3 separate regions of the Homo sapiens genome follow, and all the other regions are linked to region 2. Evidence: fine-mapped expression QTL. A gene starts in region 2. Each other region holds a variant in brackets. All regions are shown on one strand. Distances are between the middles of the regions.

Region 1 (4,216 bases), 54 kb before region 2:
ATAAACTACCCAGTCTTGGGTATTTCGTTTCAACAACACAAAATAGACTAAGACAGACATTCTTTGAGCACCTACTATGTGCCATGCTTGTGTTAGGTACCAGGAAGATAAAAGGAAACAAGATGAGATGATTAGACAATAGAGGTGTACAAAGCCAGCAGGGGCAAGCATGGAAATAGATTGCTGCAGCATGTTCTGCTGTATTATTCAGGTCCAGGTATGCTCGGGGTGCTGGAGTTTCAGGTAGTGGGGTGCTATGCCCAGGATACAGCAGAAAGGAAAAGGAAAAGTGTTTCTCTCACTGACATTTGGAAGACATTTTCCCTCCTCATGATGTGAATTTTTCCTTTCACTTGTCATTAATTCTGTTCATCTGCAAGAAGCCCATCTATCTATAGCTTTCCTTTTGCAGTAGCTTTTCAATAGTGGATCTTTATTGAGCTTTTCCATCTTTGTAAATCGTAAATTGTCCTTTCAACATGCATAATGACAAGCATTTCGACCCACACACTCTATTTACATATCATAGCAAACAGCCTCTTATTTAGATGTCAAATTCCAGCAACTAAAAACTCAGATCCACAAAACAGCAAGAAGCCAAATAATTCTCAAAACCATAATGCTTTCCATAAACTTCAGTTCCCTTTGGGCAGTCCTTCAGGCCATATAGCTGTTCTTTTTAAATACACATTTATAATGAATCTGTCCATCTGTTTTTCTAGCAGATTAGAAGTACAAAAATCAGGGGAGTCATCTGAAAACATGGTGCTTAGCTTCACGAATTCCCTAAAAGTTACAACCCAGGGCTACTGGGTTTTCCTTTCTTTTCTTTTCCTTGAGACAGCGTCTCACTCTGTCACCAGGTTGGAGAGCAGTGATGCCATCACAGGTCACTGCAGCCTCGACCTCCCAGACTCAGGTGATTCTCCCACCTCAGCCTCCCGAGTAGCTGGGACCACAGGTGTGCACCATGCCCAGCTAATTTTTTGTATTTTTTGTAGAGATGAGGTTTCGCTGTTGCTCAGGCTAGTCTTGAACCCCTGGGCTCAAGCAATCCACTCGCCTTAGCCTCCCAAAGTGCTGGAATTACAGGTATGAGCCACTGTGCCTGGCCACTACTGTGTTTTCTGAAGGAAATTAGTTTTAACAGAACCAGAAAGGACTAAGTAATATCCACAATGTGTAACAGACACCTAAACTCTTACATGAAGAGTTATGTGCCCTAGTAGAAAACTATTTTTCATTTTCTCATATCTCAAAAGATTGAAAATTACAAATCCTAGCACTTTGGGAGGCTGAAGCGGGAGTCTCTACTTTAAAAATTTAAAAATGAGCCAGGAATAGCAGCGTGTGCCTTTATCCCAGCTACTTGGAGACTAAGGTGGGGCACTGCTTAAGCTCAGGAGTTCAAGGCTACAGTGAGCTGTGATCGTGCCACTGCACTCAGCCTGGGTGACAGAGTGAGACCCTGTGTTTCTAAAATAATAATAATAATAAGTAAATAAATGAAAATTACAAATAAAACTCAACTCTACATTCAAAATTTTCTTAAAATTTTTCTTAAAAATTCTAGTCCATGTGCAGAATTCACTTGCTTAAATAAGCCATCACTTATATCTAGTCAATATCATCATGTTATAGAAAAAAGTTGAAAAAGGAACATATTATAGAATTATTGGCCATTGTTGTTTATTTAAATGCTAGAAAAAAAATAAGATTTATATACAATAAGTTTTGAGAGAAGTTTATCATTTTTTGGTTCCTATAACTTTTAGTTATTTGACATTTGCAAACTAAACTGGAAAACTAAGAAAATTAAATGTGATTTTTTTCTTCTCAGATAACTGAAGCCAAGACATTTTTGAGAACATGAATTTTCCATATGATTGACTTATTTCAATGCTTTGAGTGGGCATAGCTTTATTCTAAATTTTTATGAATTTTAGAGTTGATTCAGAAATTACAATGTGAATATTATATAAAATCAGATAATAATGTAGTATGTAAAATATGCATGGTGGAAGGAGTAAACTGTGTAGATTATTCTGGCCCTGCAAAACACAGAAGTGTCTCAATTTCTCTTTTTCCACCGTGATTTTTATCTATTGTGTTATTTTGATATTTGTACATTTACTGGGATCTGGCAGGATGAGTTGCACATGGGTAGCATTTATATTAACTAAATTTGGTTTTCATTTTAGAAACAAATTCCTCCTTTCTTCTTTTTTTCTGCTGCCAAAGCCCAATAGGCTTATAAATAAATACACAGCCCACAGGAAAGACTTGAGGAGGTTCAGGTAGACATTTCATTTGAATTTCCGGAGCCTGGTTTTATCTTAACAGCCCTCATACTCCTTGGACCACACCTGGGCAAGCAAAGTGAAG[T/C]GGGAAATAAAATAGTTGGATCAATGACGTCAACAACCAACGCCGCTGTCCAAAACCAAAACCTCACATTTCAAGCAGAGGCTGGGTGGGGAATATATATTTTTTTAACCTAAATCTTCTTCTCATTTTCTCCTTTTTTGGTGAGGGTAGAAATATCATGTAAGAGGCCTGTTATACAGATAACTAACGCAAGAGACACGTGAGCAGACGTCACTTGAGCCTCATTTTCCATGCCAAAATTCAGGATTTAAGGTCTAAAACCATAGAGAATATTTTAGAGCTAGATGGTTCCAGAAAATCTGAGACATGTGGCCACCACAGCTGTGAAGTGGCCCACTCTCTCCCACCTACCCACCCCAGAATTTCTTACCCTTCATAAGGCAGCCCCTACTCGAGGCTGGCCAGACTTCTTCAACAAATGACAGACAAAGCAGGTTTGGTCCCAATGTAAAATGAAGTCTCAGAACCCACGGCTCAGCCATTTTGGAGAGTGAGATGAGGAGGCCACGCCACAGAGGCCCTCGGGCAGCACAGCTGCCATGACAATATGGGCCAGTGCCAGGAATAGGAAGGATCAAGTTAAATGTTTGTGATCCAATAACAAAACCACAACATGGGCCCCATTAAGCAAGGTTTAGGTAGAAGCTAATGAACTGAATCTAATTTTCTTTTGACCATCTTTGACAAGGAATAAGCTCTGCTATAATGAGTTTCTTAGGCAATTCAAATATAGACATTACAGTGGGGCTCAATAAAAAAAAACAACTCTCACAAAGGAGCTGATCTCCTCAAATAGACTCTAAGGTGGTTTAACTGGGAAGCATATATATATTTCTTTAAAACTCTTCCGTGAATAATCAGGAATAATTATCCATTTTAAAATACTTTTTATATTTCCATTTTTAATTAAAAATATATACACATACACGTACATAAATACATACACATAAATGTATGAATTTTCCACCAGGAAACCCACACTAAATACCTAGGGTTTTTCTGTACTAATTGAACACACTATCACACTATAACCCAAAGGCCTGGCCACAGACAATAGCAGATGCTTCAAGAGAAAGAATAGGGCCCTTTCAGCCAATTATACAATTACACGATATGACCATGTTTACATTATCAAAGGGAGGCAGACCAAATTACCTAGCTACTTCAAATTAATAACCCCATTTACCTCAATTATCTGGCAGGCAGGGTCTAAATAACCTGAGTAATTACTTCAATTCATTCAGATGGTATAGATTTGGCCTGTGTGTCCACAAGTAATTTTTCCTTCCAGTACACACACCTTAAACCATCAGCAAATATCAAAATGCACAACAGCAAACTCCTGTCAGTTTCATCTATAAGCAGTGTAAGCAAATCCTCTCCATTATCTGGCAGATTAAAATTTGTTATACTCTTAATAATCCAGGTTGAGGTTTTCTTTTCTGACAAAAACTCACTGGACCATAGAATTTTAGAGCTAGGAAGTACCATCCAGGGCCCACAGTCTAAAAGCCAGCTCCTGGAAGCAGTCCAACCAGAAATTCAGCCTGCTCACTCATAGCACGTAAGGCAAGGAGGTCTGAAGCCCAAATGCGTGGGTTCAAATCCTGGCTCTGCCACTTACTAGCTGAATGGCCTTGGCAAGTTCCTAAACCTTGCCAAGCCTGAGTCCTCTTCTGTACAATGGTGGTAATAAGGGAACCTGATTTATAGAGTCAGAACAAGGATTAAATGAGACAATCCACATAATGCACTTAGCATGCTTCTTGGCACATAACTACTATTGTTAAGCCCGTACTATTATTATTCTTATAGCAGCACCACCTTTAAT
Region 2 (4,216 bases):
TGAATCACTCAGGCGGGCCAGAAACCCCACTGAAGGCAAAAGAGGATGCAGAGCTCAGTCTGAGGTTAGAGTGATTTCACTGAGGTTAGCACACACGCACCAAAGAGTCCCAAACAGCTTGCTTCGTAACCCCTCTCTGGGGTTTGGTGACATCTGGGGTCACTTGAACTTCGTTGGGATTCAGCTGTTCAGAGATACAAATTAGGAATCCCGGCAGCAGAGAGGCCCTACCCACAGGCCCAGAGGTCGCTCACATTACACCCGGCTTCCTTCCTGGCAAGGCCTTAACTTATCCTGAGATGACACACGATGGCAGGGGTTGGAAGATGCCTAGTCTAGTTGAGCGCCCAGCTCCTGAAACAGCTGTACCGACTACAAGGGTTCCAGCACATGAGTTGCTGGAAACTGGGGTGACCACTGACAGAGATTGAGCCAGACTTTTTTTTTAAAAAAGTACTTCTTGTTTGTTTGTTTTAAGCCCCCGAAGAAACTCACTGACACCACCCAGCGTCCCTAGGGATCACCCATAACCACACAGGGCAGCTGAGGGCAAGCACAGAGTCACAGACAGACAGCAGGGAGCGTGCCTGGTTCTACAACCTTGGCCTCCACGCGGTTCTTGCTGCCAAAGGCAGCGACACCGGAGGTGAAGGGCACCAGCCCTGGCCTAGGACTGGGGTGCGCGTGCCTGACAACGGGGCTTCCCGAAATACACAACCACCTCCTCCTCGCCCAGACCCATATCCATCCTGGCGTCCCTTGAGTCTAGAGAAGTGGGTTAAGACAAGGGAAGAAAATCCCTTACAGAAGAGGAGATCCCCGTTTTCAGTGCTGGGGACTCTCGGCACCCGCGTCCCTGTGCTTCTGGTGGTTCCGGCGCTTCCTCGGAGCGCGCGGCATGTCTGCTCCTACACGTCCAGCACCTCTGTCCCCAGAGCAAACCCACCTCCCAGGGCACACGCAGAGGGGCAGTCAGGCACCGCCTCCACCCTGCCCCACCCAGGCCGCGCGCACCCCGGAAACCTGGACTCCGCGACCAGCTCCCTCCTGTTCTTTTCCGAGGACCCCAGCGGCAGTGTGTCCTGGACCCACCTGTAGCCTCCAAGCTCCCCCACCTCTGCGTCCTTCCTAGGCGCTTCTGAGCCTGCAGAGCCTACGACCCCCAACAGGCTGCTCCGAAGTGCCTCTCCCTACATCGCTCCAGGAATGACTCCCCTACACCCGTTCCCCGCAAAAAAAAGTTGGCCCAAGATCCAGGCGTCCCAAGGATCAGCCCAGGTCCCCATCCGACGCGGGCCAGGGGGTGCTGCTCTGGCAGCTCCGGAGCCCCGGCAAAGAGCAACCTGCAGGGAGGCGCCACGCGCGGTTCCCACTACCCGCCAGAGACCCGGTCCATGGGGCCAAACGGAGGGGCCTGTGCCGGTCGACACCCCAAGCCCTGTCGCGCCCCCCCCGCCGCCTACCGTATGGGACCGGCGGAGGAGAAGGCGCGGTCGCGGGCTCCCTGAGGCAGCGTGTTCCGTCCCGGGAGGAAAGTTTGTGCCATACAGAGGAGGCGGCGCGGGGAGGACTTGGGCGCCGGTGGGTGGAGGCGTGGGCGGTGGCGCCGCGTGGTCGTGTGTCTGTCCCTCCGGCGATCGGTGCGTCTGTCCCTCGCCGGAGCCCGCGGCCGCCGCGCTCTCGCTCGCTGCGCCCAGCGCCCGGCGCGCTCCGGCTCCAGCCCCGACGCGCCCCCGCCGCCGCCGCCGCGCGTCCGCCGGCTACACTTCCTCTTCCTCTGAACTCATGTGCAAAATATGCTACGCTGCATCTTCAGGGAAAGCCTCGCGGCCCCTGACAGCAGCCGCTGGAGCGGTGGGCCCGCCCAGCTCTCCCCGCGCCCCCTCGGAGTTCCGCCCGGTCACCTCCACGCGGCCGAGCTGCAAGCGACCCTGGCAGCCTCAGAACCCAGGGGTCAGGGGCTCATCGATCCTCCCTCCCAGCCCCTCCTAATCAAGGTTGTGTGCTGTCAGGAAGAGCGCCTGGGAGACAAGGATCCTTCAAGATTTGAGCCAGGATGCTGAAAGGGCGACTGCCATCAAGGTGCTGATGGCTGGGGGTGGGGTTGGGGCCGACTTGAGAGAGGACCATTTCTCGACCCCATTCCACAGGTGGGAGCATCCCTAAACATCTCAGGTGCTGCTGAAATTCTCTCTTGCGAGTTAGTGCTTCAGGGAAGGGTAATGCCACTGTCTCCGTTGCCATCCCTTGGTCTACCTACTTAAGATGTCCAGAGGTTTGAGAAGATCTGGAGAATCACCTTGCGTGGCAACTTGAGGCACCCAGGGAGAAAATTATATAAAGAGTGAAGCACTAGTAAACCAGGCTGCATTAGTAAAGTGAAGATGTGAGGCAAGGAGCCATTAGAAAATATTTTCTTCGTAAAACTAAACCAAGCAGAATTACAGTGTAGGGGTTAAGAGGGGGAACTTTAAAGTCAAATAATCAGGGTTGGATTCCTGGCTTTAGTACTTACTGGCTGTGTGACTTTGGGTAAGTGACTTAACTGCTCTGCGCCTATTTGTCACATGGCACTTCTTCGTGGGTTATTATATGTAAAGTGTTTAGCAACCACTCTATAACTTAGCTATTATCATTATTTTAAGGGGGCTAGAACAAGAAGGGTGAGATAATTTAATTAATTATCTCCATTTTCTAATTGGGCAAAGAAGACCCTGTGTGGGCAAAGTTAAGCACTGGAGCACACAGGGTGGAGGGCTGGTTTAGGGGCCCAGCAGTGTTTCGATGAGGTCCTTCTGGCACTAATAACACTCCTCCAGCAAGTAAGGAAGCACTATTTTGTTTTCAGGGACTCTTCCTGTTACCACAGCTTCTCAGAGATTTTCTTCCTTATTTTCTCTTTCCATAGCCTTTCTAGTTCTGTTTTGCTCCCCCTCCCTCACCACTGTTTTGTTTTTATTTGTTTTTCTCCTTTCCCTTTCCACCCCACCTTTTCCTGGTGTCACACTCACCACCACTATCCCCAGTGTCCCCCATTTCCCCCCTACACTTGAGCTTGCCACATGAAAGAAAATAAGACCAGGTGACCACGTAAGTCCAGGTTCAGACAGTAGTGCGCAGGGACATTTGCTCAGGGGCATCACCAGAGGTTGTGAACACCCATTTATGAAGCCAAAGGGAGGGGTCTTCATGCTATCTATCTGCCCGAGGCCTTGAATTGCTGCAAGTCAGGGTCCATCCAAAATCTTTCTGATCCTTTGCTGGTCACTAGGCCACAGAAAGAAAATAAAATTGATAGGTGTTAACCGGTAGGCATTTAAAAGAAGATAAAGGAAAAAGGAGGGTGGGGGTGGGGGAATGCAGCATAACCTAGTTGCAGTGTGCTTGATTTCTTTTAAGCAAATCATTTTCACTCTATAAAACTTTTGCACACCGTTGTGTTTTTTGTGCTTTTTTTTTTTAAGACACCAGTGCTTGAGGTTAATATGCTATTCTGATTGCTTCCATTTTCTTCCACTCAATATTTTCCCGAGTGCTAATAATCATGGGCAAATGTCTTAAATGACTTTTTTCCCTGCTTGGATCTGCATTTTTGAGGGTTTTCTAGAACTCCTGATCTTCTTGATATTCTGATGCTTCCTACTGGCACATAGTAGGTGTTCAGTAAATATGTGTGGAATGAGTGGATGAGCCAATAGCATGCAGATCTTTCAAGGCTCTTCTTAACCTGCATTCAGCAATTATCCAGGGTGTTCCAATTCTCTTTCACCTGGAATATTTAATGAGGAGCCAAATGTTGGATTCACTTGTGTTCTGTAGAGAGCTGCCTGGATTTTCCACTTGACTGCTATGGACTGGCCAGCCATGGGAGAGACCCTGGGCAGCTGGGTCTCACTTCTAACTGACCTTGCCTACCCAGCCCCAACCCCAAAGATGCTGGGACTGTATCCTAGTGGGTTACCTTGGCAACCTCACAATGTCATCTGTTAGAATGTCCTAGGGCGGCAGCTTTTAATTCTATCACAGCGGTCTCATCGGGGGTCATGTAATAGTGCTGTTTTTTCTCTGCTCACACTTCCTCCCCCTGTGATTTAACACTAAGTACTCGGGGAGGAGCTGAACACGGGAAAAACCAAGCTATTACTGCATGACAGGTCACAGATGGCCCCAGAACTGGGGTCCCGAGTGTTCACAGTCAATAAGACGCAGGTCCCAA
Region 3 (4,216 bases), 45 kb before region 2:
GAGGATAAAAAGGAAGGTCACTCTGATTGAAGAGGAGATGGTTAGTAGGGGGATGGATGCAAAGGCCAGATGTGGGAGAAAGAGACTGGCAGGCCTAAGGTCAATTCTTATCTTGTCAGTGTGGAGAAAAATGTGTTACCAGCAGCGTTTAGTCTAATGATGTGTGAGAGATACACAAAACAAAAAGGGGGGTGAGGGTTTTGGGTAGAAGGAAATCATGATCGTAGTCCACTCCTGAGCTAAAGGCCTGAGCCTGGGAACCAGTGGGAGGAATGAAACAGACGGATGCATAGAGAGATGCTGGAAAGAATAATCAAGTGGATATGATGGCATTGGAAATGAGGGAAGGCAGGAGAATAAACCACAGTGCCTTGGTCTTTCAATTTTGAGGAAGAAAGATCCCAAGGTCAATAACACCTCACTTATGCAGAGGCCCCTTGGCTCACAAACTCAGCCATCCAGATGCAGCCCCCTCCTTCTCAGACTGCTCCAGTGCCATCCACAACATTCCACACAGGCCCTACACACAGGACATGGCCCCGGCTGCCTCCGCTGCCCGCCACTCATCCTCATCTCTACTGGATCCAGACACTTGACTCATTCGTGATCCTCAAACATGCCAAGCACATGCTGACCCCGGAAGGAGCCTTCTGTAAGAGAGTGGGCAGGGCCTGAGCCCGGGGAATGCCCAGGGTTAAGGGGAAGCAGAGAAAAGCCCTCAAAGAGGAGTGGCCAAAAGAGGTGATGACCGTGCGCCATGGAAGGGAAACCAGAGATGCAAAAAGCCAACGGCAGTTCATGCACATCAAAAGCTTCAGGGGCATGCAAGTGAATGGAAACAAAGTTCAGTTGAAGAAAGGAATAAAGAAAGGAAGGAAAGAAGACAGAAATGGGTGAAAGCCTTTCACAGCAAATATCTCTGGCAGACAGAGCAGGGAGCAGACCCCAGAGGAAGGAAGTCTAAAAGAGCTTCATCCCTCACCCCACTCGTGCATTTTGGCAGCACCCACCTAAGAGTACACTTTGGGGAAAGAGGGTGAGAGAAGCAGGCTCGCTCTTACTACTACCCCCAAATTAATTCCTCAGCAAGCCTTTCCCATTCATTATCATCATCTTTTCTTCATAAATCAAGTCTGCCAGACTCAAAGACTGGAACATTCAGGAAGTGCTTACTCAAAACATAGAAACATCAATATGGAGACTGCAGACCCCAGAATGATAACAGGGTGAGCTATATTTATATCCCACGGCTGGTGATGCCTCAGCACACTTCACTCTCTAGAAATTCCGTCGGCTTAATTTATGTGGCTCATTCCTCATTCCCTTTCAGCTGACAGGCTTCTTATCTTTTTCATTTGGAAACTTATCTGTAGGAGTTCCCAAACCCTCACTGTCGTTCGTTTTTGAAGTACCTGCATTCTGTCTCGAGTTTCCGGTAGATAAGTAGGGCTCCCTTAGATGCTGTCTGCCTATACCCCATGACTGTCAAAAATGTCCCCACCCTGGGATCAGGCATCAGATCCTAACAACACTGACAGAGTGAAGGGCACGTTTCTCCCTTTGGTGGGATTTTCTCTTCCAAGCCATTAAAACACTTTAAGATGCCTTTTCATATCTTTGCTATCTTTAGATTAGATGCTTAATGCATAAATCAGCCCAAATAGAGTGATGGAGTAGCGGGGAGAGGCTGACGCATTTCCTCACGTACAACCCAGCGTTTGAGTAAAAAAAAAAAAAAAAAAAACTTTACTCAGAAAAAAGATAAGGCTAAAATCAGATCTCAGATTAAAAATGGTAAGGAAATTGCAACTAGCTGTAGCCAATTCAAGCTGAGCCAATTATCACCAATCATAAAAGATGACTTATAAGAGGCCCTGGTGCCCCAGTACAATGGAGCAATTAAATCTTTATAACTGAGACAAAAAAAATGCCACATAATTAGACACAGCCAGAAAAGGGTACGTATGCTTCCCCTTCCTGTGGCTGGCCCATTAGGGCAGGCATGCAGCCATTTCTTCACTGCCAAAAGGCCAATCCATTCCCCCCATCACTCAGCCTGCCTGAATCGCATCTGACACTGGCCACTAAGGTGGAGTTTCCTTTGGCCACAGGCCACTAACAATCCTTGAGTTCCCGCCTATCCCACGTCCAAATAAGTACAAGAATAACAGTGTCCTTATCCCACAGGTTACATGTGAAAAATATCTAGCTGTCTATTGAAGAAGTCAAGGGCATAGCTTCCGGAGCTAGGCACTAAGGTTCAAATCCTAGCTGCGCAACTCCCTAGCAGTTTTCTCATCTGTAAAATGTGCATAATCATAGTATATACTTCACTGAGTGTTGTGGGGATTAAAAGAATTAATATATGTGAAGGACTTCGAAGCGTGACTGG[T/C]ATATATTAGGTGCTATGTGAGTCGGTTGTTGTTATTACATACTTCCCAATAGTATCATTATCATCATCATCATTATTATTAAGCACTTTACAATAGCAAGAGTTGCCATCAGCAGCCAGTTATGAGGCTGTTATGCTTATCCAGGCTGGACAAATCTGGGCCACTGGTTAGAGGAATGGAGAAGACAAGCTGACACCAAGAGACAGTGCAAAGGCAGGTGCACGACCTTCCACAGATGCCTGGTGCAGGCGGGAAGGAACTGGAGACGCAAAGTGGGACTCCAGGATGCCGCACTGGGGAGCATGGTAGGGCGTGCTCCACAGAGGGAAGGGGGGAAGAGAGAGGACCAGGAGCTTGGGGGCAGACATGCTGGCCTGAGGCCCCTCCAGGACTTCCACAGAGGACGGCCTTGGGCCCAGAGGATGCTTGCTCACCTTGAACATGAAGCTACTTCTTTTTCCCTCCTTGCACAACAGCACTGACTGGACACAAAGCCAAAGTCAACCCCAGGGGAAGATAGGACAAACAATCACAGCAAGTACATCCCCAAGGACCCTTTCTGTTGACACAGGGACATTTCCTGAAGGTTTATTCTGCCCCAGCCGCTCCAGATATGTTATCTCATTTCACCCTGACAATAACCCAGAGGAGCTGTGTGCTCAGAAAGGGTTAAGTGACTTGCTCAAGGTCATGGGGTTAGCAAGGAGCAGAAGTGAAAATTGAACCTAGATCTGTCAGAAAGAGAGGGGGGTCCAGGCTACAGACCCAGAAACTTGTGTTCTGACACCAGAGATGGGATTTCTCTGGGCCTTCATTTGTCTATCTTTAAAATGGGGATATTTGTCCTTCCTGCTCCACTTCTGGTATGACTGAGGATGCTCCTATAGATCAAGTCTCCTGCAGATAACAACTATAAACTCTGCACACACGCACACACACACACACACACATACAGACATAAAAACAAAACAAAACAAAACAAAGCAACTTTCTGAGGGCACTGGAGAGGAAGCCAAGGCAGGCAGATACTGGAGGGCATCAACACTTGCAAGAAAAGTACTGCACTGGGCGAGGTTTTGTCTCTGATGGCTTTTAGCCCAAGGGCAGGCCCTGGTTGGTACCACAGGAGCAGCTAAAACTCGGACAGAAACCCACAGTTTACTGGCTTGAAGAAACAGAAGACAGAACACAGGGCTACTTCAGCTGGTAGAATATGAAGAGAAAACCCCAGAAAGGAGAGAGCCAGAGAAAAGAGCCCCAGATTCTGTGTATAAACTCTGCCCAGATCTCTGGCAGACTCCTGAACCATGCATGCACGAGGTACTCCCTAAGCAACCCAGCTAAGGCTAAAAGAACAAATTTCAGCTGCCACCCAAGAGACAGAGTTGGCAGCTGGAGTCCAACTGCTTGTTTGCTAAAGCAAACAAACAAAATCAACAGTCATCAGAAGAATATAACAGAATCCAGAGTCTCCACACCATCACAGTCACAATGTCCAGGATACAATTCAAAATTACCACAAAAATGTCATAAAAAATGTTACCCATTTTAAAGAAAAATGGCAATCAATGAAGACCAATCCCAAGTTACACAGGGTGCTAGAATTAACAAACAAGAATTTCCAGATAACTATTATAACTAAATTCAATATCTGTCCAACCTACCTCACAGAGTTGTTAAAGGTAAAATATGCAAGCAAAAAGTGCTTTGGAAAGTTTCACATACACTACCTCTAAAAAATAAAAATAGAAGTGGTCTCCACTTTTTATATCTGTTCCCAAAAACCACAGAATAAAGCAAACCATTTTAATATGCATCTTTCT

Evidence for each region. PIP is the estimated chance that this variant, and not a neighbour inherited with it, causes the effect.
Region 1: its variant is the best candidate, but not a certain one, in a credible set for the expression of RFTN1 in lung (TOPMed, PIP 0.89).
Region 3: its variant is the best candidate, but not a certain one, in a credible set for the expression of RFTN1 in whole blood (INTERVAL, PIP 0.88).

What each region holds. Positions count from the first base shown.
Region 1 is chr3:16,458,117-16,462,332 of GRCh38, forward strand. All of the region lies in intron 2 of RFTN1 (raftlin, lipid raft linker 1), which reads right to left. Among named protein-coding and RNA genes, the nearest start is that of RFTN1, 53 kb to the right of the region's middle. The variant T/C (reference allele first, on the strand shown) is at 2,386.
Region 2 is chr3:16,511,979-16,516,194 of GRCh38, forward strand. It overlaps RFTN1 (raftlin, lipid raft linker 1), which reads right to left and starts at 1,721. Exons shown (of 10, transcript NM_015150.2): 1 at 1,464-1,721. RefSeq lists enhancers at 161-570, 1,121-1,200 and silencers at 1,491-1,850, 1,881-1,950, 3,104-3,279, 3,887-3,936.
Region 3 is chr3:16,466,908-16,471,123 of GRCh38, forward strand. All of the region lies in intron 2 of RFTN1 (raftlin, lipid raft linker 1), which reads right to left. Among named protein-coding and RNA genes, the nearest start is that of RFTN1, 45 kb to the right of the region's middle. RefSeq lists enhancers at 517-646, 887-1,016. The variant T/C (reference allele first, on the strand shown) is at 2,393.